3 separate regions of the Homo sapiens genome follow, and all the other regions are linked to region 1. Evidence: fine-mapped expression QTL. A gene starts in region 1. Each other region holds a variant in brackets. All regions are shown on one strand. Distances are between the middles of the regions. Region 1 holds the start of R3HDM2 (R3H domain containing 2). Region 2 overlaps R3HDM2 (R3H domain containing 2). Region 3 overlaps R3HDM2 (R3H domain containing 2).

Region 1 (8,183 bases):
CTGACTTGAAAATGAAGCCAGTTACAGGTAGAACTTGGCAGAATCTGCCAACGCATAGTCAGTGAAAGTACAGAGTGGGGGATGTGAGGAGAGGTTGGTTTGTTTAGGGAAAGACACGTCCCTGGGCCAATGTTGGGAGACAGTTGTTATCCATGTGAGCTGCCAGGCCTGGGGTTCAAAGGTGAGAGATTAAATTCCTCCTCAGATCTCTACCCTTGCTGGGAATCCTGGGGATGGTGGAAAGGGACAGATCACAGGTTTTGGGAAAGAATGTTAAAGGGAGACTCTCAAACAAGAAGGGGTCATTGGCAAGGCACTTTAGCTCACTGTCACGCATGAACAATTGAGAGTTGCATTCTTTTTTGCCTGGTGTTTCTCAAAGCCCATCCCCATCCCTCCATCCTCCCTCCTGGGGTTCTCAATCCAGCCTTATTTGTTAGCCCTGGTTGAGTTTTGCCCAAGAGGTCTCAAAACTATGAAGTCTGAAGGTTAAGGGAAGGGAGGCACAGTGTTCTAGCCATGTCTTTGATGCTCTCAGAGGGAACTCCTAAGGTGGGGAAAGGGCTTGAGTTCCAGATTTGCTCACCCTTTGGGGTTTTTTTCTGTCTTGGAAAAGAAGTTTTGAGATTCCCTTTTTTTTTTTTTCTTTTGAGATGGCGTCTCACTCTGTCGCCCAGGCTGGAGTGCAGTGGCATAATTTCAGCTCACTGCAACCTCTGCCTCCCGGGTTCTAGCAGTTCTCCTGCCTCAGCCTCCTAAGTAGCTGGGATTACAGGTGCGTGCCACCATGCCTGGTTAATTTTTGTATTTTTAGTAGAGACGGGGTTTCACCATGTTGTTCAGGCTGGTCTTGAACTCCTGACCTTGTGATCCACCCGCCTCGGCCTCCCAACATGCTGGGATTACAGGCGTGAGCCACCGTGCCTGGCCAGGAGTATAGGTTTTAAATCCAGGTATTCTTGGTTGTTGTTCTTCAGTTCTTGCACTTGTCTCAGAAACATTTCAGGCTTTCATTCTGTGTCATGGCACTGAGAAAATAAAACAATTTTAATCTGGGAAATGCAAGTCTTTGAAGATTATCAGGCTCAGAGAGACATTAAAATGAGACAGCAGACCAGGCATGGCGGCTCAAGCCTATAATCCCAGCACTTTAGGAGGCCAAAGCGGGCAAATCATTTGAACTCACGAGTTCAAGACCAGACTGGGCAACATAGCCAGACCCTATCCATACTAAAATAAAAAATAAATAAATAAAATAAAATTTAAAAAAAGCTGGGAGTGGTGGTGTGTTCCTGTAGTCCCAGCTACTCAGGAGGCTGAGACTGGAGGATCATTTGAGCCCAGGAGGTTGAAGGTGCAGTGAGCTGTAATTGTACTGCTGCACACCTGCCTGGGAAATAGAGTGAGAGCCTGTCTCAAAAAAATAAATAAAAAATAAATAAATAAAATGAGAGGGCAATCATGTCCTACTTCCTGCTTTTGAGCTATGTATTCATCTCTTGAAATTGCTTGCTATTGCCACAAGTAACTATAAATTAACATAATAATGCTGCACTGGACACTATAACCTAGATCCTATAGCTTAACAATCTATAGCCAATCACTAATCAATGTTATTTCTGTAAACCAACAAGAATACCCGACAACTTTGTATCAGTCTACTCCCTGTCTCCTTCTTTTTTGCCCTTAAAAATGTGCTTGTAGGCTGGGCGTGATGGCTCACGTCTGTAATTCCAGCACTTTGGGAGGCTGAAGTGGGCAGTTCACTTGAGGTCAGGAGTTCGAGACGAGCCTGGCCAGCATGGTGATACCCCATCTGTACTAAAAATACCAAAGAAAAATAAAAAAATAAATAAAATAAAAATAAGCCGGGCGTGGTGGCACATGCCTGTAGTCCCAGCTACCTGAGAGGCTGAGGCAGGAGAATCACTTGAACCCGGGAGGTGGAGGTTGCAGTGAGCTGAGATCATGCCACTGCACTCCAGCCTGGGCGACAGAGCAAGACTCCGTCTCAAAAAAAATAAAAAAAAATCTGGAACTTTGGTTTCATTATTGTGCCTCAGGTTTCCTCATCTATAAAACAGGTATAATAATAGTACCTATTGTATTGAGGATTTGATACTAACAATAGATGTAGAATGCTACACATTTTATATTGTACTTACATACACATAATACAAATATTAGCTATTATTTCCTACTGGTCATCACTGCCTGGTCTGGAACTCCTGAGCTCAAATGATCCACCTGCCTTGGCCTCCCAAAGTGCTAGGTGTGAGCCACTGCGCCCGGCCAAGACAAAAAGTTTAAATCGTGGTGAAAAGTGGCAGGTTAGATCAGTTCAGTTCAGTTGTATTTTTCTTCCCCCGTTGTTGTTCTCTAGAGGGTTGAGAGAATTTGGGGGCAGGAGGCAGTGATGACCAGGAGAGAGGGCTGGGCAAGGTGGCTCACACCTGTAATCCCAGAACTTTGGAAGGCCGAGGCGGGTGGATCACCTGAGGCCAGGAGTTCGAGATTAGCCTGGCCAACATGGCAAAACCCCGTCTCTACTAAAAATACAAAAAATAGCCGGGTGTGATGGTGCGTGCCTGTAGTCCCAGCTACTCCGGACGCTGAGGCAGGAGAATCACTTGAACCTGAGAGGTGAAGGTTGTAGTGAACCGACATTGCACCACTGCAATCTAGTTGCCTGGGTGACAAAGCGAGACCCCATCTCAAAATAAATAAAACAAACAAACAAACAAACAAAAAACGCCAACCAACCTGGAACTTGCTCATCCTTGAAGGAAAGATGAACTTCATGCCTCTATGACTTTGCTGGAATCTCCATTCTTACCTCTCTAGTGAACTATTTATAGTCTCAAGATTAGCTGGAGTTTCACCTGTAGTTTCTCTGTAACTTACTCAATCTCTTTTACCGCTAAGAACGAATTGCTGTTCCTTGTGTTTCCATAGCACATTTAAACCTTTCTATTATAGCACTTAAATTGTACTATAATTATTTGACTTTTTTTGCCTACCGCAGTTTCTGTCACAAGGTAAATATTTAATGGTCGAATTCTACAAAAGACTACATTGCTTCTTTGAGGGAGTTTGGTCAGTAAATTATCCACACACACATAATCAATAACTAAATTGATTCTGCCTAGAATGGACAAAACGGGGGAGGCTGGACATTTAAGACGATTTTTGAGAACTGTATCTTAGAGAGGGGATGATGGTAAGAATGTGATCTTAATAGGACAGACTGAGTTCCTCCTAGGTCGGTTTTTTTCATCTTTACGTAAAATGGACATTTACCTGCTCAACTATAGTTATCCACGTATGCAACAAATACCGAGTGTACGTTCTTTTGGTACAGGAGTTACTGCCCTAAGTGAAAGTGCTCTGTAAATGGAAATTACTTTAGAATGATCACTATTAGTATTATATTGAAATCCAGGGTATTCTATCTGACAGACTTGAAGGGTTTAAGGAGGACCGAGGCTCCCAGTGACTCCGGATTGGTGTCCTGACACAGGTAACGCGGAAGGAGGAGAGGGCGAGCGAGCGAGTGCGAGTGCGCGCGCGCCGGCGGGAGTGCGTGCGGCAGGCGGTAGGCCCCGCAGGGCTGCTGAGGGGCACGCGGGAAGCCAGGAAGCAGGGACGGCCGGAACGCAGGACGAGGTGACGACAACGCCGGACGTAGTGACGTAGCGCGCAGCCGCAGCGGGGGGCGGACTCTGGGCTTTTCTTCCCCTTCTGATTTTCCCCTCCCCCCTTTTCTCCCTTTCCGGGTTTGGTTCCCCCCTTTTCTTCCCCTCTCCCCCCTCCTTCCCAAGCCCCTTTCCCCTCCCCCGTCCCAGTCCCCCCTGCTTCCCAGCCCTCGGCCCCGGGGAAGCCCCGGCCGAGAAAAGCCCGCCCCCAGAAGCGCGCCGCCGCCGGCCGTCGGGGCCGAGCCGCAGCCGAGCGGCCGTGGGCCCGGGCGGCGGGCGGAGACGTGGGCGCCCTCCCCGCCAAGGCCCGTGCGAGGTGAGGCCACCTCCCGGCCGAGGGGGCGGGCGGCCCGGACGGCCTGTGGGGAGGGGGCGTGGCGGCCGCACGGGCGGGCGCGAGGAGGCCCCGCGGCCTGGGTTCCTCGCGCCCGGCAGCCGGTCCCGGGGACGATGGGTCAGGGTCGGATGGCCGCGGGAAGGACTGCTCCAAGTGTGCGCTGCTGGAGAGAAGCTGGGGGCGCGGGGCGGAGGGCGGCGGTGCGGGGGCAGGGGGGTGGCGCCACCTGTGGCCTTTGCGGGGTGACCTAAAAACTATTGCGCCCTTCCAGTGCTTCGGGGTGGCTAGCTCCGTGTGTTTCTTGGGTGGCGGTTTTCCTTCGAGCGTGGAGCATGGAAAAATAGGACGGAGAGGTGTAGAAGTGTTTAAAATCATGCTGGTGTCCAGGTTTCTTACAGGGACGGGGATTTGAGTTGGCACATACAGGGAGATGTTTCTATAGCTTAAAACTTGGGCCTACACTAAGCTCATAACTACTCGAGCCCCTGAAAACGCTTCGATTCGTTTTCCCGTAGAGCTAACATTTTTCAACATTTGTGGCCATTAAGTCTCGGAACTACCAGGAATACTGACTTAGAGTGAATTGTCATTGGATAATGATGAGAAATGACCGAATAACAATCCCAGAACTGCGTTAAAACGGAAGAAAGAAAAGTGGAAAAGTTTGAATTCAGATCCCAGTTGGATGAATATCCTTGTACATAATGTTGTTCAAATAGATAACTAAGATTGAGAAGCCTGAGTCCTGTCTGATATGCGTAAGCCACGTGGAGACTCAAGGAAGGAGGAAAGTGACAGGTTTCACTTCAGGAATATCACAAATTCCTAGCATTTTCTTGTATTTTTAGATAGATTTGCAGTTGAATTATTTGTGGCTCTTCTTCCTAATGCTTTTTTTTGTTGTTGTTCCACCAATATTCCCCCCCCACCCCCGCCCCCCTTTTTGTTGCTGGGGTATCAAGACAAAAGGTTGTATTTTGTTTTTTGAGACAGGGTCTCAGTCTGTCACCCAGAATGGAGTGTAGTGGTTCCTTTTCGGCTCAATGCAACCTCTGCCTCCTGGCCTCAAGCCGTCCTCCTACCTCAGTCCCCCAAGTAGCTGGGAGTACAGGCATGAGCCACCACTCCTGGCTGATTTTTGTAGAGACGGGTTTCACCTTGCTGCCCAGGCTGGTCTGGAACTCCTGGGCTCAAGTGATCCACCTGCCTTGGCCTCCCAAAGTGGTAGGCTTGAGCCACCGCGCCGGGAAAGACAAAAAGTTTAAATAGTGGTGAAAAGTGGCCGGTTAGATTAATTCAGTTCAGTTTTTAGTTGTATTTTTCTTACCCTGTTGCTGTTCTCCAGAGAGTTGAGAGAAAAGATAACTTTTTTCTTGAAGGCCTGATGAACTCCTAACAAGTTAAATTTCAGAGTTGAAGTTCCATTTGTCTTTGTGTCCATTATATGATTAGTAGAGCTTCACAATTTTTTTTTCGTAGGGATGGGATCTTGCTATGTTGCCCAGGCTGGTTTTGAACTCCTGGCCTCAAGTGATCCTCTGGCCTCAGACTCCCAAAAGCACTGGGATTACAGGCGTGAGCCATTGCTCTTGGCAGAGCTTCACAATGTAAAGTTTTAAAAAAATTTGACAAATAAAAATAGCATGCCTGACTGGCCGGGCACGGTGGCTCATGCTGTAATCGCAGCACTTTGGGAGGCGAAGGCAGGTGGATCACCTGAGGTCAGGAGTTTGAGACCAGCCTGGCCAACATGGTGGAACCCCGTCTCTACTAAAAATACAAAAAGTAGCCAGGCGTGGTGGCAGGCACCTGTAATCTCAGCTTCTTGGCAGGCTGAGGTGGGAGAATCATTTGAACCCAGGAGGCGGATTTTGCAGTAAGCCAAGATCGTGCCACTGTACTCCAGCCTAGGCAACAGAGCGAGAGACTGTCTCAAAAAAAAAAAAAAAATAATAGCATGCCTAATATTTTTTAATGGAAAATTAAGACAGGAGATGGCTTCCTTTCTCTTTCAAAATAAAAACCAATGTTACTTTTTGTTGTTGTTGTTCTTTCTCGCTATGTCACCCAGGGTGGAGCGCAGTGGTGCAATCTCGGCTCACTGCAAGCTCTGTCTCCTGGGTAAATGCCATTCTCCTGCCTCAGCCTCCTGGGTAGCTGGGACTACAGGTGCCCCCCCACCACGCCCCCCACCACACCCCCCACCATACCCGGCTAATGTTTTGTATTTTTAGTAGAGACGGGTTTCACTGTGTTAGCCAGGATGGTCTCGATCTCCTGACCTCGTGATCTGCCCACCTCGGCCTCCCAAAGTGCTGGGATTACAGGCATGAGCCACCGCGCCCAGCCAAACCAATCTTAGCTTTAAAGCTCTAGATCTGTGGCACCCTTTTCCCCTAACATGCACACTGGCCTCTGGCTGTTCCTTGAGCACACTAGGCACACTTCTGCCTCAGGGTCTATGCTCTTGTTTCCTCTTCCTGAGTTACTTTTCTCTTACAAAGCTGTGTAAGAGCATAGCCTGTCTGTCCCCTCATCTCCTTCAGGTCTTTACTCAAATTTCACTCTTTTTTTTTTTTGAGATGGAGTCTCGCTCTGTCACCCAGGCTGGAGTGCAGTGGCATGATCTCGGCTCACTGCAACCTCTACCTCCTGGGTTCAAGCGATTCTCCTGCCTCAGCCCCCTGAGTAGCTGGGATTACAGGTGCCTGCCACCATGCCTGGCTAATTTTTTTGTATTTTTAGTACACACAGGGTTTCACTATATGTTGGCCAGGCTGGTCTTCAACTCCTGACCCTAAGTGATCCACCCACCTCCACCTCCCAAAGTGTAATCCCAAAGTGTAGGGATTACAGGTGTGAGCCACTGCGCCTGGCCCAAATGTCACTCTTAACACTGATATTCCCTTGGCTATCTGGATGGCAAAGCCCCTCCTGCATACACATTTACATAACTCTCTATCCCCCTTTTCTGCTTTATTTTCTGCCTTAACCCTTATCAACCTATAACGTATTATATATTTTAATCTCCCCTAGTAGAAAGCTTCAGGGCCAGGCGCAGTGGCTCACACCTATAGTCCCAGCACTTTGGGAGGCCAAGGACGGGGCATCACCAGAGGTTAGAAGTTCGAGACCAGCCTGGCCAACATGGTGAAACCCCATCTCTACTAAAAATACAAAAATTAGCTGGGTGTGGTGGTACACGCCTGTAGTCCCAGCTACTTGGGAGGCTGAGGCAGGAGAGTGGCTTGAACCTGGGAGGCTGAGGTTGCAGTGAGCTGAGATCGTGCCACTGCACTCCAGCCTGGGCAACAGACTGAGACTTTGTCTCAAAAAAAAAAAAGCTTCAGGAGAGCAGGCATTTTTGTTTTATTTATTTTATTTTATTATTATTTATTTATTTTTTTTGAGACAGAACCTCTGTCTGTCGCCCAGGCTGGAGTGCAGTGGCACGATGTCAGCTCACTGCAACCTCCACCTCCCGGGTTCAAGTGATTGTCCTGCCTCAGCCTCCTGAGTAGCTAGGATTACAGGCACGCGCCACCACGTCCAACTAATTTTTGTATTTTTAGTAGAGATGGTGTTTCACCGTGTTGGTCAGGCTGGTCTTGAACTCCTGACCTGGTGATCCTCCTGCCTCGGCCTCCCAAAGTGCTGGGATTGTAGGCGTGAGCCTCTGTGCCCAGCCACATTTTTGTTTTATTAATTTCCGTATCCTCAGCACTTAGCACAGCACTTGATGTTCAGTAAAGTGCACAACAGATTTATTGACTGAGTAGGTAAGGAGGAGTTTTTTCCTTGAACTCTTTCCATGAATTTTTCATCGTGATTAGTTGTCCTTGGAAGGGTGGGATGGGTTTTCACTAGGAAAACCTGGTTTTCTAAGGTACTCATTGAGAGATGTTGAGATGTTTTTTCTGGGGATGTTTCTCTTTGGACAAACATCTCGTGCTTTGGGGCCATTGAATGAAAATACTCTGAGGGCAGAGAAGAGGATGGAGTGTGGAAGTCTTTGGTATTGGTAGTCTTATCTCAGATTTATTGTGGCTAGAATTTTTACCTACTTCATGCTCTTCCCTTGAGGTTTGTTCATGTCCCTTCCAAGACAAATATCACTCGTTACTTCTCTGACCCTACCTAGCTGAGCAGGC
Region 2 (8,183 bases), 42 kb after region 1:
CTCAAAAATAAAAAAGAGAGAGAATTCTGTTGTCATCTTTATCTTTGTTCTTCTATATGTCAGGGTTCCCCAGTCCCTGGGCCATGGACCAGTGCTGGTCCAAGAGGTAAGCGGCAGGCGAGTGAACATTACCCCCTGAACTCAGCCTCCTGTCAGATCAGCAGTGGCATTAGATTCTCATAGGAGTGTGAACTCTATTGTGAACTGTGCATGTGAGTGATCTAGGTTGTATAGTCCTTAGGCAAATCTAATGCCTGATGATCTGAGGTGGAACAGTTTCATCCTGAAACCATCGCCTTACTGTCCATGGAAAATTTGTCTTCAACAAAACTGGTCCTTGGTGCCAAAAAGGTTGGAAACCGCTGTTATTTGTGTCCTTTTGCTCTGGCTGCTTTTAAGATTTTCCCTTAGCTGGGTGTGGTGGTTCATGAAGCCTGTAGTCTCAGCTACTTGGGAGGCCTGAGGTAGGAGGATCACTTGAGCATAGGAGTTGCACGATCTCGGCTCACTGCAACCTCCACCTCCCAGGTTGAAGTGATTCTCCTGCCTTGGCCTCCCAAATTGCTGGGATTACAGGTGCCCACCACCACACCTGGCTAATTTTTTGTATTTTTAGTAGAGACAGGATTTTGCCATGTTGGCCAGGCTGGTCTCCAACTCCTGACCTCAGGTAATCCACCCGCCTCAGCCTCCCACAGTGCTGGGATTACAGGCTTGAGCCACTGGGCCCAGCCGCTCACTTTTTACTATAGCTCTTTGCACATGTGGAATATAGTGGTAATAACTTTTCAAGTGTCTTTACAGATTCTATAATTTGTATCATTTATCAGTTATTTATTTTAACTTTTCATTGTGAAACAAGTATAGATTTATAGGAAGTTGCAAAAAGAGTATAGGAATATCCTATGATGTCCTTTTACTCAGTGTCTTCCATTGGTAACATCACATAACTATAGTACAATATTAAAGTTAGGAAGTAGCCATTGGTAAAATTTACAGAGTTTATTCAGCTTTGTCCAGTTTTACATGTACTTGTATTTGTGTATGTCGGTGTTTGAATTTCATAATGTGTGAATTTGTGTATCTACCATCACTGTGAAGATGCAAAACAGTTCCATCCCCACAAGGATCTTTCTTGTTGCCCTTTTATAACTACACCTGCCTCCCTCCATCCCATTCCCTGGAAACCACTAATATAATATTGTTATTTCAAAAACATTACACAGATGGAATCCTATAGTATATACAGTTGGCTTTTTTTCTTTTTGAGATTGGCTTACCCCAACCCCTGCCCCACTTAGCTTAATTATCTGGAGATTCATCAAAGTTGTTAGATGTATCAATAATTTGTTCCTTTTGATTGCTGAGTAGCGTTCCATGGTGTAGCTGTACGCATTTGCTTAATCATTCACCTGTTGAAGGACTTCTGTGTTGGTTCCAATTTTCATCTATTGCATATAAATCTACTATGAATATTCATGTCCAGATTTTTGTATAATTATTAGTTTTTATTTGTCTGTGATAAATGCTTAAGAGTCTAATTGCTGGGGGTATGGTAATTAGATATTTCTTTTCTTTCTTTCTTTTTTTTTTTTTTATTTGAGACGGAGTTTTGTTGTTGTTGCCCAGGCTGGAGTGCAGTGGCATGATCTCGGCTCACTGCAACCTCTGCTTCCCGGGTTCAAGTGATTCTTCTGTCTCAGGCTCCTGAAAAGCTGGGATCACAGGCAACCACCACCACACCTGGCTAATTTCCTGTATTTTTAGTAGAGACAGGGTTTCACCATGTTGGCCAGGCTGGTCTCAGACTCCTGACCTCAGGTAATCCACCCGCCTCACCTCCCAAAGTGCTGGGATTGCAGGCGTGAGCCACCTCACCCAGCCTGGTAATTACATATTTCTTTCTTCCTTTTTTTTTGAGACGGATTTCACTCTGTCATCAAGGCTGGAGGGCAGCAGTGTGATCATGGCTCACTGCAGCCTCGAACTCCTGGGCTCAAGTGATCCTCTTGCCTCAGCCTCCCAAAGTGCTGGGACCACTGGTACATTCCGCCTTGCTTGGCTAATTATTTTATTTTTGGTAAAGATGGGGTCTCACTATGTTGCCAAGCTGGTCTTGAACTCCTGAGCTCCAGTGATCTTCCTGTCTCAGCCTCCCAAAGTGCTGGGATTTCAGATGTGAGCCACTGCATTTGGCCTCAGTCCTATTTTCTTCACTCAGGGAGCATGCTGGACTCTGCCCTTGTTCCCCTTAGACTCTCCTTCCCTGTTACATTTCTTGGAAACACTGTTTAGGGATTAAGCCTGGATAATCACAGGACTCACCTCACTTGTTTCCCATCTCCCAAGGAATCACTATCGTTCACTGCCTGATGCCCAGTAACTTAAAAACTATTGTTTCATATATTTTTTCTTTTTTTCTTTCTTTCTTTTTTTTTTTTAGTTATTTCTCCTAGAAGGTATTCTGATTCTTGTTACTCTGTTAGCCAGAAGTGGAATCCCCTCCCCCAACCTGTAAAGTTTTCATTAGCATTATTACACCTATTGTTACTGACTACTATCCAATAATTCCTTTGTTTCTCGAATTCTTGAAAAGGGAACGGCAGCCAAATAGAGCTCAGACAAAAAAGATACTTCTGATGTTGTTCAGTGTCTCTTGAAGCCCACATAATTCCAGAAAATTGCAAATCAATCAGATACAGGCTTAGAGCTAGAAGTAGGTCAGCTACCATAGCACAAGATGATGGTGTGAAAATATTTTAGTGACAGCTTGTGCATGATAATATATCCTTTCTTGTTCAGGGTTCTTTTTGGATATAATGCTGAATTCTGGGTGTTATCATATGCTTTTTTTCTATTCTAATCTTTTTATTCTTTGTTAAAAAATATGGTCATGTTTATAAAATCACAACTTCTACATTTAAAGGGTAGGTTGACCAATTAAAGCAGCCTTTCCAACCTAAGTGCATCTGGCTAGGTAATTCTCTCTGAGCTTTATTATTTGTTTTAGAGCTTAGATCAGAGTTTGACAATGTAGTGTATATACTAAGATTTCTTAAAGATTTATCTGTGTATTCCAAGGTGTGCTTATCTGTGTAAAAAACTCAGCAAGACATGGCATTGCCACAGGCTATCAAACATTTGAAATATTCCTTTGGAGTTATTTTCTGGAATTAGGCCACTTTTCAATAATTAGATGACTTTGAGCTCTTGGAGTCATCTCCTAGAACCACCTTTGGAATAGAGCTGCCTCTGTGCTCGTCTTACCAGTAGAGTTTTATTTGTATTTCCAGCCTGTTGCTTCTGCTGATGAACCTGGGTATAGCTTTGTATATTAGTCAGCTATTTTCAACATTGCCTATCATGGTGCTTTGCAAGTGGTTACTCAGTAGTTATTTGCTGCATGAACGAATGTCTCTTCATTGAGTCACTGCATCAGTCACTTCCCTCCTAACGTTTCAGGGGATCTTTCCTTTTCCTCCCATCTCTATCCTTTTGGTTATTTTCCTTCTTGTTTGCATTTCCTCTGGAGGGTAGACCAAGAAGGCAAAGGAGATGAGTCCAAAACCATTCTGTTGTTTATTAGTAACCCTGATAAGAAAAAAAGTATTATATGAGAAAGGATTGAAATATTTGGTGAAAATCAGATTTTGGAGTTAATGCTGGATTTCATTTTTTCATTCTGTATCTCCCACTACTAGTTATGGATTCGGTTTTTGCTGTTTTTTCTTTTCTTCAAAGCCCTGACCATCTTTTTTTTCTTTAATTTATAGCTAGTGATGTCCTCTTACATTTTATTTTATTTCTCATTTTTATAACTTTTTCCCCCTCCATATGGAAGCCTCTTCCATGTGGAGTCCTAATTCGGGAAAAGGAGTCAGGCTGGCGGGACCAAGGGAATGCAAAAAGAGAAAGCAGATAAGCTGTAACTGCCTTCGTGGTCCAGGACACATAGCCCTCCTGCGCAAATAACTCATAATCTTCCTGCACCCAGCTATCACCAGACCCTCAGCTGATAGAAAAATGCAAGTTAGCTCACTGCAACCTTGACATTGTCAGTACTGCACAAGGTGTTATCATTAACCCTCTTCAGCACACAGCACAAGCACCATCTTATAGAATCCCCAGCAAGCAAGCCTTTGTGTCTCCTGGCAGCCAGTTCTTCTCTTGCTGACTTGTCGTTTGCTTTCTTACAACATATTTTCCTACTTTCGCTAATAAATAAATATGCCTTTCTTTACCTACAACTGTCTTGGTAAATTCTTTTTACTGCCTGCATGACACTGGCCCCAGATAGTTGCCACTCAAAATACTCCTCTTCTTTATCCCTTTAAATATTGGTGTGTCTTGGCCAGGTGTGGTGGCTCACGCCTGTAATCCCAGCACTTTGGGAGGCTGAGGCGGGCAGATCACCTGAGGTCATGAGTTCCAGGTCAGCCTGGCCAACATGGTGAAACCCCATCTCTACTAAAAATACAAAAATTAGCCAGGCATGGTGGCAGGCGCCTGTAATCCCAGCTAGTTGGGAGGCTGAGGCAAGAGAATCGCTTGAACCTGGGAGGCGGAGTTTGCAGTGAGCTGATATCCCGCCATTGCACTCCCACCTGGGGGACAAGAGCAAGACTTTGTCTTTTTAAAAAAAAAAAA[T/A]TTTTTTTGTCTGTCTTGAGGCCCCTGCTTCTCTTCTAGCCTTTTCTTTGGTTACTCTGCCACTGTTTTCATTGTGTTTTCTCCCTCTGTGACCCTGTTTAAAATCCAAGGTTTCAACTACTCTCAGTTTGGTGTTCTAGATTTCCAGTTCCACTGGTGTAACTATCCATTGGACACTTTTTGTCCGCCCATGGGCATAACATATTTATTATGTATGAAACAGAACTTTTTCTTTCCAAACTGGTTTCTTCTTCAGTATTCATATTTCAGTGAGTAGAAATATTATTCACTCAGTGGTTCTCAAACTTTCTGGTATCAGAACCCCTTAACACTCTTAAAAATGATTGAAATCTCCAGAGAGCTTTTGTCTTTGTGAGTTATAACATTAAATATTAATGATTAGAAGTTAAAACTGAGAAAATTTAAAATACCTATTTTTAAAAAGTATAAATTTACTAAAAGTGACAGTAAACCTTTGTCCAGAATTGGTGGGTTCTTGGTCTCACTGACTTCAAGAATGAAGCCACGGACCCTTGCGGTGAGTGTCACAGTTCTTAAAGGCGGTGTGTCTGGAGTTTGTTCCTTCTGATGCTCGGATGTGTTCGGAGTTTCTTCCTTCTGGTGGGTTCGTGGTCTCGCTGGCTTCAGGAGTGAAGCTACAGACCTTTGCGGTGAGTGTTACAGCTCATAAAGGCAGTGTGGACCCAAAGAGTGAGCAGCAGCAAGATTTATTGCAAAGAGCGAAAGAACAAAGCTTCCACAGTGTGGAAGGGGACCCCAGCCGGTTGCCACTGGTGGCTCGGGCAGCCTGCTTTTATTCTCTTATCTGACCCCACCCATATCCTGCTGATTGGTCCATTTTACAGAGAGCTGATTGGTGCATTTACAGTCCCTGAGCTAGACACAAAAGTTCTCCACGTCCCCACTAGATTAGCTATATGCAGCCCACTAGATTAGCTAGATACAGAGTGTTGATTGGTGTATTTACAAACCTTGAGCTAGATACAGAGTGCCAAAGGTGCATTCACAACTCCTTAGCTAGACATAAAGGTTCTCCAAGTCCCCACCAGATTAACTAGATACCAAGTGCCAATTGGTGCATTCACAAACCCTGAGCTAGACACAGGGTGCTGATTGGTGAGTTTACAAACCTTGAGCTAGATACAGAGTGCTGATTGGTGTATTTACAATCCCTTAGCTAGACATAAAGATTCTCCAAGTCCCCACCAGACTTAGGAGCCCAGCTGGCTTCACCCAGTGGATCCTGCACTGGGGCTGCAGGTGGAGCTGCCTGCGAGTCCTGCACAGTGGGCCTGCACTGCTCAGCCCTTAGGCTGTCCGTGGGACTGGGCGCGGTGGAGCAGGGGGCGGCGCTCGTCAGGGAGGCTCAGGCTGCGCAGGAGCCCACAGAAGCGGGGGGAGGCTCAGGCATGGCGGGCTGCAGGTCCCAAGCCCTGCCCCGAGGGGAGGCAGCTAAGGCCCGGCAAGAAGTCGAGCACAGCAGCTGCTTGCCCAGGTGCTAAGCCCCTCACTGCCCTGGTGGGCGGGGCCGGCTGGCCTCTCCGAGTGCGGAGCCTGCCGAGCCCACTCCCACCCGGAACTCGTGCTGGCCCGCAAGCGCCATGGGCAGCCTCGGTTCCCGCCCGTGCCTCTCCGTCCACACCTCCCCGCAAGCTGAGGGAGCCGGCTCCCGCCTCGGCGAGCCCAGGAAGGAGCTCCCACAGTGCAGCGGTGGGCTGAAGGGCTCCTCAAGTGCCGCCAAAGTGGGAGCCCAGGCAGAGGAGGCCCCCAGAGCGAGGGAGGGCTGCGAGCGCTGCCAGCACGCTGTCACCTCTCAAACCTATTGCATGTTAACATAAATTTGTATGAAAAATAACTTTTTACAAAACAGCAGCAACAAAATGTGGTGAGAAATGTGGCATTTTTTTTATTTTTGTAATTATTTTTAATGATGGTACTAATAGAAGACAGCTGGATTCTCATAACTGCATTTTCATTCAAATTAGTTACAATATTCCATTTCATATATCTTCTGGAAAATGCTACCATACACCCATGAGAGCATGACAGTGAAAAAGACAAACAGGGTTTTACTACTACTCTGAAAATGGTTTTGACCATGTAGTTTCCATGAAAGTCTTGGGGATTCCCAGGGGTTCCAGGCCACACTTTGAGAGCTGCTCTTCTGTCTAGTCCCCCAGGTGTCTTCTTAGATGTCTTCTCTCCCAGTCATTACACACATCTCATATGTTACTAAGTCTTTTTTTTTTTTTGAAGACGGGGTCCTGCTGTGTTGCCCAGGCTGGAGTGCAGGGCTCACTGCAGCCTCGACCTCTCAGGATCAAGTGATCTTCCCATCTCAGCCTCCCGACTAGCTGGGACCACAGGTGTGTGCCACCACCCCCAGATAAAAGTCTTAAAGTTAGGCCAGGCATGGTGGCTCATGCCTGTAATCCCAGCACTTTGGGAGGCTGAGGTGGGCGGATCGCGAGGTCAGGAGATCGAGACCATTCTGGCTAACACGGTGAAACCCCCTCTCTACTAAAAATACAAAAAATTAGCTGGGCGTGGTGGCAGGCGCCTGTAAGTCCCAGCTACTTGGGAGGCTGAGACAGGAGAATGGCGTGAACCCAGGAGGTAGAGCTTGCAGTGAGCCAGATTGCGCCATTGCACTCCAGCCTGGGCGACAGAGTGAGACTCCGTCTCAAAAAAAAAAAAAAAGTCTTTAAGTTTTTATCTCCTCAATGTATCTTAAGTCAGAGTCCCCTCATTCTACAGCCAGAGTACTTTTCTTCTTATTTGTTTGTTTGTTTGAGATGGAGTCTCACTCTGTTGCCCAGGCTGGAGTGCAGTGGCTCGATCTTGTGATATCTGCTCACTGCAACCTCCACCTCCTGGGTTCAAGCAGTTCTCTGCCTCAGCCTCCTGAGTAGCTGGGATTACAGGCACCTGCCACAACGTCCAGCTAATTTTAGTATTTTTAGTAGAGATGGGGTTTCACCGTTTTGGCCAGGCTGGTCTTGAACTCCTGACCTCGTGATCCACCCGCCTCGGCCTCCCAAAGTGCTGGCATTACACGTGTGAGCGACCACGCCTGGCCTGGGCCAGAGTACTTTTCACATTTTTTTCTATCTAGTGTTTTTGCCTCTATTCTTTTTTTTCTAAGCCATTCACATTGTAGAAAAAGTAATCTTTCTAAAATAGAAATCTGATGATGTAACTCCTTTCCAAAAGTCCTTTATGAGTTTCTTACAGCTTTATTAGTATGTAAGACTTTTTATAATCCTGTTTCTACTAACCTCTCTAGATTCTTCTCAAGCCATTCATTTCTCCATGGATACCTTTATGTTATAGCTTTCTTTATGCAATACTTGCAGCTCTGAGAAAAAATCATGGTGACCTGTACATCTGTATTAACAGTGTTGAGTTTGCACTTTTCTATGTACTTTACATATGTTATTTTTTTTATACAGCCTTCCAAAAGAAGTACTCTTATTATTCTGTTTTATAGATGAGGAAACTGAGAGAGATGATTG
Region 3 (8,183 bases), 56 kb after region 1:
ACTCATAAAACAATAATTCCCCATTCTCCTCTCCCCCTTTCCCCCAGCCCTGGCAAGTACCATTCTACTTTCCGTCTTCTATGATTTTGAATATTCTAACTACCTCATATAAGTGGAATTATACAGAATTTGTCGTTTTGTGACTGGCTTTAGCGTGTCGTCAAGGTTATCCATGTTGCAGCATATGTCAGAATTTCCTTTTTAAGGCTGAATATTATTCTGTTGCATGTATATACCACATTTGGAACAAATCCATTCATTTGTTGATAAACACTTGCTTCTACCATGTAGCTATTATGAATAGTGCTGCTATGAACATGGATGTACAAATATCTGTTTGAGACCCTATTTTCAATTCTTTTGAATATATACCCAGAAGTAGAATTGCTGAATCAGAACTTAGACTTTAGTGAGAAGAATGAAAAATAGGCTGGGTGCAGTGACCTGTAATTGCAGCACTTTGGGAGGCCAAAGCAGAAGGATGTCTTGAGTCCAGGAGTTTGAGACCAGCCTGGGCAACATGGCAAAACGCTGTCTCTACAAAATACACAAAAAATTAGCCAGTCGTGGTGGCATATGCCTGTAGTCTCAGCTACTAGGGAGGCTGAGGTGGGAGGATCACTTGAGCCTGGGGTTAAGGCTGCAGTGAATCTTGAGTGCACCACTGCACACCAGCCTGGACAACAGAGCAAGACCCTGTTTCAAAAAAAAGAAAAATAATACCACCAGACAGACCAAGATGGAATCCATGAAAGCAAATCCTTAAAATGAGACCCACAAACAGCTCTCTTGATTATAGTTTATCTGAAATTGGCTCTACTTTTTTGCCCTTTCATGTCCCCTTTTTGCCCATGATAGGAAACAGAGTGATGACATAGCATGTAATAATAGTTTCATTTTGTTACAGATTTGCTGTGGGCCAGACACCCTGCAAAATTACTTTGAAAATTATATAATCACAGTATCCTATGAAAGGTGTTTTTTGTTTGTTTGTTTTTTGTTGAGACAGTGTCTTGCTCTGTTACCCAGGCTGGAGTGCAGTGGCATGATCTCAGCTCACTTTAACCTCCGCCTCCTGGGTTCAAGAGATTCTCTTGCTTCAGCCTCCCTTCAGCCTCCCGCGTAGCTGGGATTACAGGCATGCACCACCACACCTGGCTAATTTTTGTATTTTTAGTAGAGATGGGGTTTTACCACGTTGGTCAGGCTGGTCTCAAACTCCTGACCTCAAGCAATCCGCCCACCTCGGCCTCCCAAACTTCTGAGATTACAGGTGTGAGCCACTGCCCCTGGCCGAAAGGTTTCAACTTGCTTATTTTACATTGAGATAAAGAGAGGCTTAGAGAGGTGATTACTTATCTAGGATCACAAAGCCTGGTATGTGATAGGGCTAGGTAGGCATGGTCCTAATGTTATCAAGCAAAAGGGGCTTGCTGCCCAATGCACTACAAGCCAATACTATGACACTGAGTTTTTGAGAAAAGAAAAGCTTATATTGCCAGTTGACTCACAGGAGTCAAGCTCAAATCTGTCTCCTGGTGCAGTAATTTTATTAGAACAGGTTTAGCGGGTAGATTCTGGGATTACTAGGTGATTGGTGGAAGGAAAGGGGAGGTCTAGAAAGTCCTTGGCAGTACCCAGTTATCTCTTCATGACTCCTCATGGGTCCCATGTTCAAATTTGGGAGGAGTTAATATGAAGCATGTGGTGGCAATTCAGGCTGTGATGACGCTCCTTCAGAGTGAACTCTAGTTGGCTATATTGGTTGCAACTGATTTCAGCCAGTTTTGTTATCTTACAAGCAGAAGGAGTTTCAGTGTTTCAGAAAGTTGTTTCTTATCTGCTATCTTGCAAACTCAAGACTTTCTGTTAGTTACTGGTTTAAGTTTTTGGGGCATGGTTTTACTAACAACTTCAGTCCCTGGGCAACAGCATGAATGGAAGCCCACATTCCATATTTTTAATTTTTTTTTTTTTTCTGAGACCAAGTCTCTTTTATTTATTTATTTATTTATTTATTTAGCGTGGACCCAAGGAGTGAGCAGCAGCAAGATTTATTGCAAAGAGCGAAAAAACAAAGCTTCCACAGCATGGAAGGGGACCCAAGTGGGTTGCCCCTTTTTTAAAATTTTTTTTTATTTTTTATTTTTTTTACTGAGTCTCATTCTTTTGCCCAGGCTAGAGTGCAGTGGTGTCATCTCGGCTCATTGCAACCGCCGCCTCCTGAGTTCAAGTGATTCTTCTGTCTCAGCCTCCCAAGTAGCTGGGATTACAGGCACTTGCCACCACACCTGGCTAATTTTTGTATTTTTTAGTAGAGATGGGACTTCGTCATGTTGGCCAGGCTGGTGTCAAACTCCTGACCTCAGGTGATCCGCCTGCCTCAGCCTCCCAAAGTGTTGGGAGTATAGGTGTGAGCCACTGCCCCCGTCCCCATATTTCTAAATATTTAGTAGTTATAAATCAAGATTTTTAAAAAAGGAACTTAATAATTTTATTTCACTACAGCCTTGAACTTCTGGCTTCAAGTGAACCTCCTGCCTCATCTTCCTGAGTAGCTGGGACCACAGGCATGTGCCACCTCACCCAGTAAATCAAAATTAAAAAACTGTTAGAACTTTGAGGGGAAATTATTTTTTGAGACAGAATAGGATGGTTCAGGGATATCCTACAAGCCTAGTCTCCATCTGTACCCTTCCCGTTGTTTGTCCCTTGCCCACCATTCAGGCAATGGAACGTGTATAACAGAAGGTTATTGTCCATGGAAGGACAAAGTTTGAGATGAGAAGAAATCCACTGAAGGCCCTGATTGGGGTTTGGGGCTGCTTAGGCAGGAAAACCTGGGATCTGGAGCATAGCTGAGAGTAGTCGAGTAAGGCTCTTCAGGTAGGTATGTCCTCTGGTCCCATGGACATCTTGCCCTGAGGGCATGGGCAAGTCAGAGGAGGGTCATAGTGGTTCTATCTTCAATGAAGGACCCAGAATAGGTCCAAGACCAAGAGTGCCAGAACTCAAAACTGGGCCCCTTTGACCATGCTGTCTGTTGTTAATAGTAAGAAAGCCTGGGTTTACAGAATGAGATGATGGCTTACTCTGGTTGATGGAGAGGGGTTAGAAAGCAGCTGATCTGGCTGGGCATGGTGGCTCACGCCTGTAATCCCAGCACTTTGGGAGGCCGAGGTGGGTGGATCACGAGGTCAGGAGATCGAGACCATCCTGGCTAACATAGTGAAACCCTGTCTCTACTAAAAATACAAAATATTAGCTGCACATGGTGGTGTGGGCCTGTAATCCCAGCTACTCGGGAGGCTGAGGCGGGAGAATTGCTTGAACCAGGGAGTCAGAGGTTGTAGTGAGCCGAGATTGCACCGCTGCACTCCAGCCTGGCGACAGAGCAAGACTCCGTCTCAAAAAAAAAAAAAAAAGCAGCTGATCTGACCTGGATAAGTACTTTAAATGGACCATATTTTGAAAGAACCAGCCTGTTTCTCCTTTGAAAATACAGTTTAGTATTTACTCATAGAGTCTAGAGAATTTAAGAATTGAAAAAACGCTGCTTCTTCCAAGTGCATTCTGTTCTGGTCTTTGCACAGTGTAAGTTGAATGGCACAGTTATGAAGAGATATAGCCATTTTTTTCCTCTAAAAATAGGTGAGGCAGGAGCATATTCATCTGATATTCATCTGATTATATGTTGGTTTGCAGTTTATACTGAACAAGAATTTTTTTCGATACCATTTGTTTGCTTACTT[A/G]GGATAAAGTAATGTATAAAAGGATCAGATTATGGTTTTATATTCTATATTATACTTTTATAGGGAGATTAGACATAAAAATTGTCTTATATTGTCCTAAAATTTCCAGTTGTCTGAAATTAATCTCAGACTTATGAAGAGAGGTGTATATTTTTATTTATTTTTAATTTTTGAGAGGTGTATATTTTGATGGCTGCAGAGAAATGCAGTTTTGGATGCAGAATATTATTTCTTCGTCACATAAATTGTTGAGTTTGTGGAATATGTCTGGTCTGGTCATTTTTTTTTTTAAATGGTTAATTTTATGTGAATGTCACTTCAATTTTATTTATTTATTTATTTATTTTTTTTTTGAGATGGAGTCTTGCTCTGTCACCCAGGCTGGAGTGCAGTGGCATGATCTCGGCTCACTGCAAGCTCCGCCTCCCGGGTTCACGCCATTCTCCTGCCTCAGCCTCCAGAGTAGCTGGGACTACAGGCGCCCGCCACCACGCCCGACTATTTTTTTTTTGTATTTTTAGTAGAGACGGGGTTTCACCGTGTTAGCCAGGATGATCTTGATCTCCTGACCTCGTGATCTGCCTGCCTCAGCCTCTCAAAGTGCTAGTATTACAGGCGTGAGCCACCGCGCCCGGCCTTTTTTTTTTTTTTTTTTTTTTTTTTTTAAGATAGAATTTCTCTCTTTTTGCCCAGGCTGGGGTGCAATGGCGTGATCTTGGCTCACTGCAACCTCCGCCTCCTGGGTTCAAGTAATTCTCCTGCCTCAGCCTCCCAAGTAGCTGGGATTACAGATACCTGCCACCATGCCTGGCTAATTTTTTGTATTTTTAGTAGAGACAGGGTTTTACCATGTTGGCCAGGCTGGTCTCGAACTCCTGACCTCAGGCTGCCTTGACCTCCCAAAGTGCTGGGATTACAGACGTGAGCCACCACGCCCGGCCTGGTCTGGTCATTCTTGTCATTCTCAAGATAACAGTTTTATGATTGACTGTCCAGCCACACACTATTCATCAGACTTCATACTTTTTTTTGAGATGGTCTCACTCCCATTGCCCAGGCTGGAGTACAGTGGCACGATCACGGGTCCCTGTAATCTCGACCTCCCCAGCCTCAGGTGATTCTCCCACCTCAGCCTTCTGAGTAGCTGGGACTGCAGCTCATTATTACATCGTATTTTCATTGTTAAGAGTGGGCAGGGACCATATTTTTTTGTTTTGTTTTGAGACAGAGTCTTGCTCTGGCACCCAGGCTGGAGTGCAGTGGTGCGATCTCATCTCACTGCAACCTCTGTCTCCTGGGTTCAAGCAATTCTCCTACCTTAGCCTCCCGAGTAGCTGGGATTACAGGTGCCCGTCACCACCCCCAGCTGATTTTTGTGTTTTTAGTAGAGGCGGGGTTTCACCATGTTGGCCAGGCTGGTCCTGAAGTCCTGACCTCAGATGATCTGCCCACCTCGGCCTCCCAAAGTGCTAGGATTGCAGGCATGAGCCACCACGCCCTTATTATTATTATTATTTATTTATTTATTTATTTTTGAGAAGGAGTTTTGCTCTTGTTGCCCAGACTGGAGTGCAATGGTGCGATCTCAGCTCACCCCAACCTCTGCCTCCTGGGTTCAAGTGATTCTTTTGCCTTAGCCTTCCAAGTAGCTGGGATTACAAATAGGCATGCGCCACCACCCCCCGCTAAGTTTGTATTTTTAGTAGAGACAGGATGTCTCCATGTTGTTCAGGCTGGTCTCAAACTCCCGACCTCAGGTGATCTGCCCACCTCGGCCTCCCAAAGTGCTGGGATTACAGGTGTGAGCCACTGTGCCCAGCCTCTATTATTATTATTACATTTTTTTTTGTGAGACGGAGTCTTGCTCTGTCACCCAGGCTGGAGTGCAGTGGCGCGATCTTGGCTCACTGCAAGCTCCGCCTCTGGGGTCATGCCATTCTCCTGCCTCAGCCTCCTTAGTAGCTGGTACTACAGGCGCCCGCCACCACGCCCGGCTAATTTTTTGTATTTTTAGTAGAGACGGGGTTTCACCATGCTAGCCAGGAAGATCTCAATCTCCTGACCTCGTGATCCACCTGCATTGGCCTCCCAAAGTGCTGAGATTACAGGCGTGAGCCACCGCGCCCGGCTTGTTATTACTGTTTTTAGAGACAGAGTCTTGCTTTGTCATCCAGGTTGAAGTGCAGCAGCACAGTCATAGCTTACTGCAGCCTCAAACTCCTTGGCTCAAGTGATTCTCTCACCTCATCCTCCCAAGTAGCTAGGACTACAGGCACGTGCCACCATGTCCAGCTAATTTTTTGTAGAGATGGGGGTCTCACTACATTGCCCAGGCTAGTATCAATCTCCTGGCCTCAAGCGATCCTCCCACTTTGGCCTCCTGCCAAAGGGCTGGGATTACAGGCACAAGCCCCCATGCTTGGCCAGAGTTGGAGTTTAATTTAAATCTGGGAAGACCATAATCATGGATTTTGTTCAGTTTTCAAGCTACCCTTTTTATTGATTGGTGTGACTCTTGTGTTTGCATGTGTTGACTTGTAGGATCTATTAGAGGTGGAAAAAGGAATAGCAAAATATTGAGTGCTATCTCAGTACTAGAGGCATAATTAGTAGAAGTCTAAATTGATGTTAGACCTAGAATTTGGTGGTGTGGAAAATCGAGTTTTAATCCCTTATTTTTTAAAAAACATATCTTCCTATGTCATTTAGATTTGCTTTCTCTATCATAACTGCTCTTTCCAAATAGTACCATTGTTTATTAGCTCTCTTGTTATCAGATTTGCCAAATTCCTGAAAAATATTTGATTTTTGAGGAAGTACATTAGAGTTTGGCATTTGGTTTGCGTGCCAATTTCAGCAGCACCCTTTATTGCAAAGAGCTTGGGAATTTGTTGACAGAAATCCATTTTCTCTGTGACTCCTGATTCCCCCCACACCCCCGCCCCAAGGCTTTCTAGCCTGTGGTCTATTTTTAAATCCTGCTGCTGTGCTCTGTATTGCGGCAGTTCTTTTCCTGAATTATTTATCATTGTTGGGAGCTGAATGGAGCACTATGTTTTTTCACCACTGCTCATTAGGACCCACGTGTCTGTCTTCAACTTGGATGACATACCTGGTTCATGTTAAATCCCACTGGTCCATCCTGGGAAGGCTTTGAGATAATATAAGAACAGGCCACAGTTGGCTGGGTGCAGTGGCTCACACCTGTAATCCCAGCACTTTGAGAGTCCAAGGTGGGTGGATCACCTGAGGTCAGGAGTTCAAGACCAGCCTGACCAATGTGGAGAAACCTCATCTCTACTAAAAATAAAAAATTAGCCCGGTGTGTTGGTGCATGCCTGCAATCCCACCTACTTGGGAGGCTGAGGCAGGAGAATCGCTTGAACCCGGGAGGCGGAGGTTATAGTGAGCCGAGACCGCACCATTGCACTCCAGCCTGGGCAACAAGAGCGAAACTCCGTCTCAAAATTAAACAACAACAACAAAAAAGGACAATCTATGATATGTTGTAAAATCATTCGGACTTTTGGATTACTGTTATTTTGTTTCAGCAGCAGTGGGACAGAGAGAAGCTATGCCATATCCTTCCCTTAGACTATGCTCAAAGATATTATGTTATACTGGCTTTTCTGATGATATTTACTTTTTGTTTTTATAGTTGTTGCATTGATGTTACTCATTTAGGAAAGGTGAAAGAGAAATCCCTATGAGAAGCACAATGTTAAATCAAGATTCATTTTAGTTATAAATATGACCTGGATATTTGGAGATATCTTGAAATTCTCTGTTTTGGGGGTTTGGGTTGTGGGGGATTGGCTTGTTTTGTTTGGGAGTATTTCTTCTCATTGCCTGTCTTCTTATCTTACTACAGACTATAGGCTTGGAAGAAGAATGACAAAACCTAAGCACAAGGCAGTTATCTTGAATGATATTTCTTACCTTTTCTGTTTTGCAGGACATCAGAACTGATGTTTCTTTTTTGTTTTCGTTCTATTTTTTTCTGCATCCTGTCTTTCATGAAAATATTTTTCTCTCCCTTGATATCACTGCTTTTTTCTTTTTGATATATGAATACACAGCTACTCCTGTGTTCTTTACTTCTTTAAACAGTTAACCCTTTTATGTTACTGTAGGCAGAAAAAGGGTAGCTGTTAATCATTTAGGCACTGAAGAGGGTAAAACTTTGTTTGCCTGCCCTAGTTTGTTGGGTGTCTCTGAGTTTGTGTGTGTATCTTAAAAAAAAAAAAAAAAAAAAAAAAAAAAAAGTAATGGTATATATTTGGTTCCCATTCTTGGAGTAATGATGAAATATTTTTATATTTTGAACCAGAACAAATTTTGGTCTTCTGTTGCTGCTTCTAATCAGTTCTACTGGCCCAGAAACTGGCATATCACTGCTCAGTGATTTCTTTTATTATCATTCCATTCATT

Evidence for each region. PIP is the estimated chance that this variant, and not a neighbour inherited with it, causes the effect. A credible set is the group of variants that fine-mapping cannot tell apart.
Region 2: its variant is the best candidate, but not a certain one, in a credible set for the expression of R3HDM2 in whole blood (TOPMed, PIP 0.82).
Region 3: its variant is the best candidate, but not a certain one, in a credible set for the expression of R3HDM2 in whole blood (TOPMed, PIP 0.82).

Annotation. Positions count from the first base shown.
Region 1 is chr12:57,426,548-57,434,730 of GRCh38, reverse strand. It overlaps R3HDM2 (R3H domain containing 2), which reads left to right and starts at 3,688. Exons shown (of 24, transcript NM_001394031.1): 1 at 3,688-4,011. It overlaps R3HDM2-DT (R3HDM2 divergent transcript), which reads right to left and starts at 3,615. Exons shown (of 2, transcript NR_185976.1): 1 at 3,301-3,615; 2 at 796-1,028. RefSeq lists a silencer at 3,787-4,256 and an enhancer at 4,437-4,546.
Region 2 is chr12:57,384,431-57,392,613 of GRCh38, reverse strand. The region is part of intron 2 of R3HDM2 (R3H domain containing 2); the gene reads left to right. Among named protein-coding and RNA genes, the nearest start is that of R3HDM2, 43 kb to the left of the region's middle. The variant T/A (reference allele first, on the strand shown) is at 4,648.
Region 3 is chr12:57,370,918-57,379,100 of GRCh38, reverse strand. The region is part of intron 2 of R3HDM2 (R3H domain containing 2); the gene reads left to right. Among named protein-coding and RNA genes, the nearest start is that of R3HDM2, 56 kb to the left of the region's middle. RefSeq lists a silencer at 6,481-6,775. The variant A/G (reference allele first, on the strand shown) is at 3,753.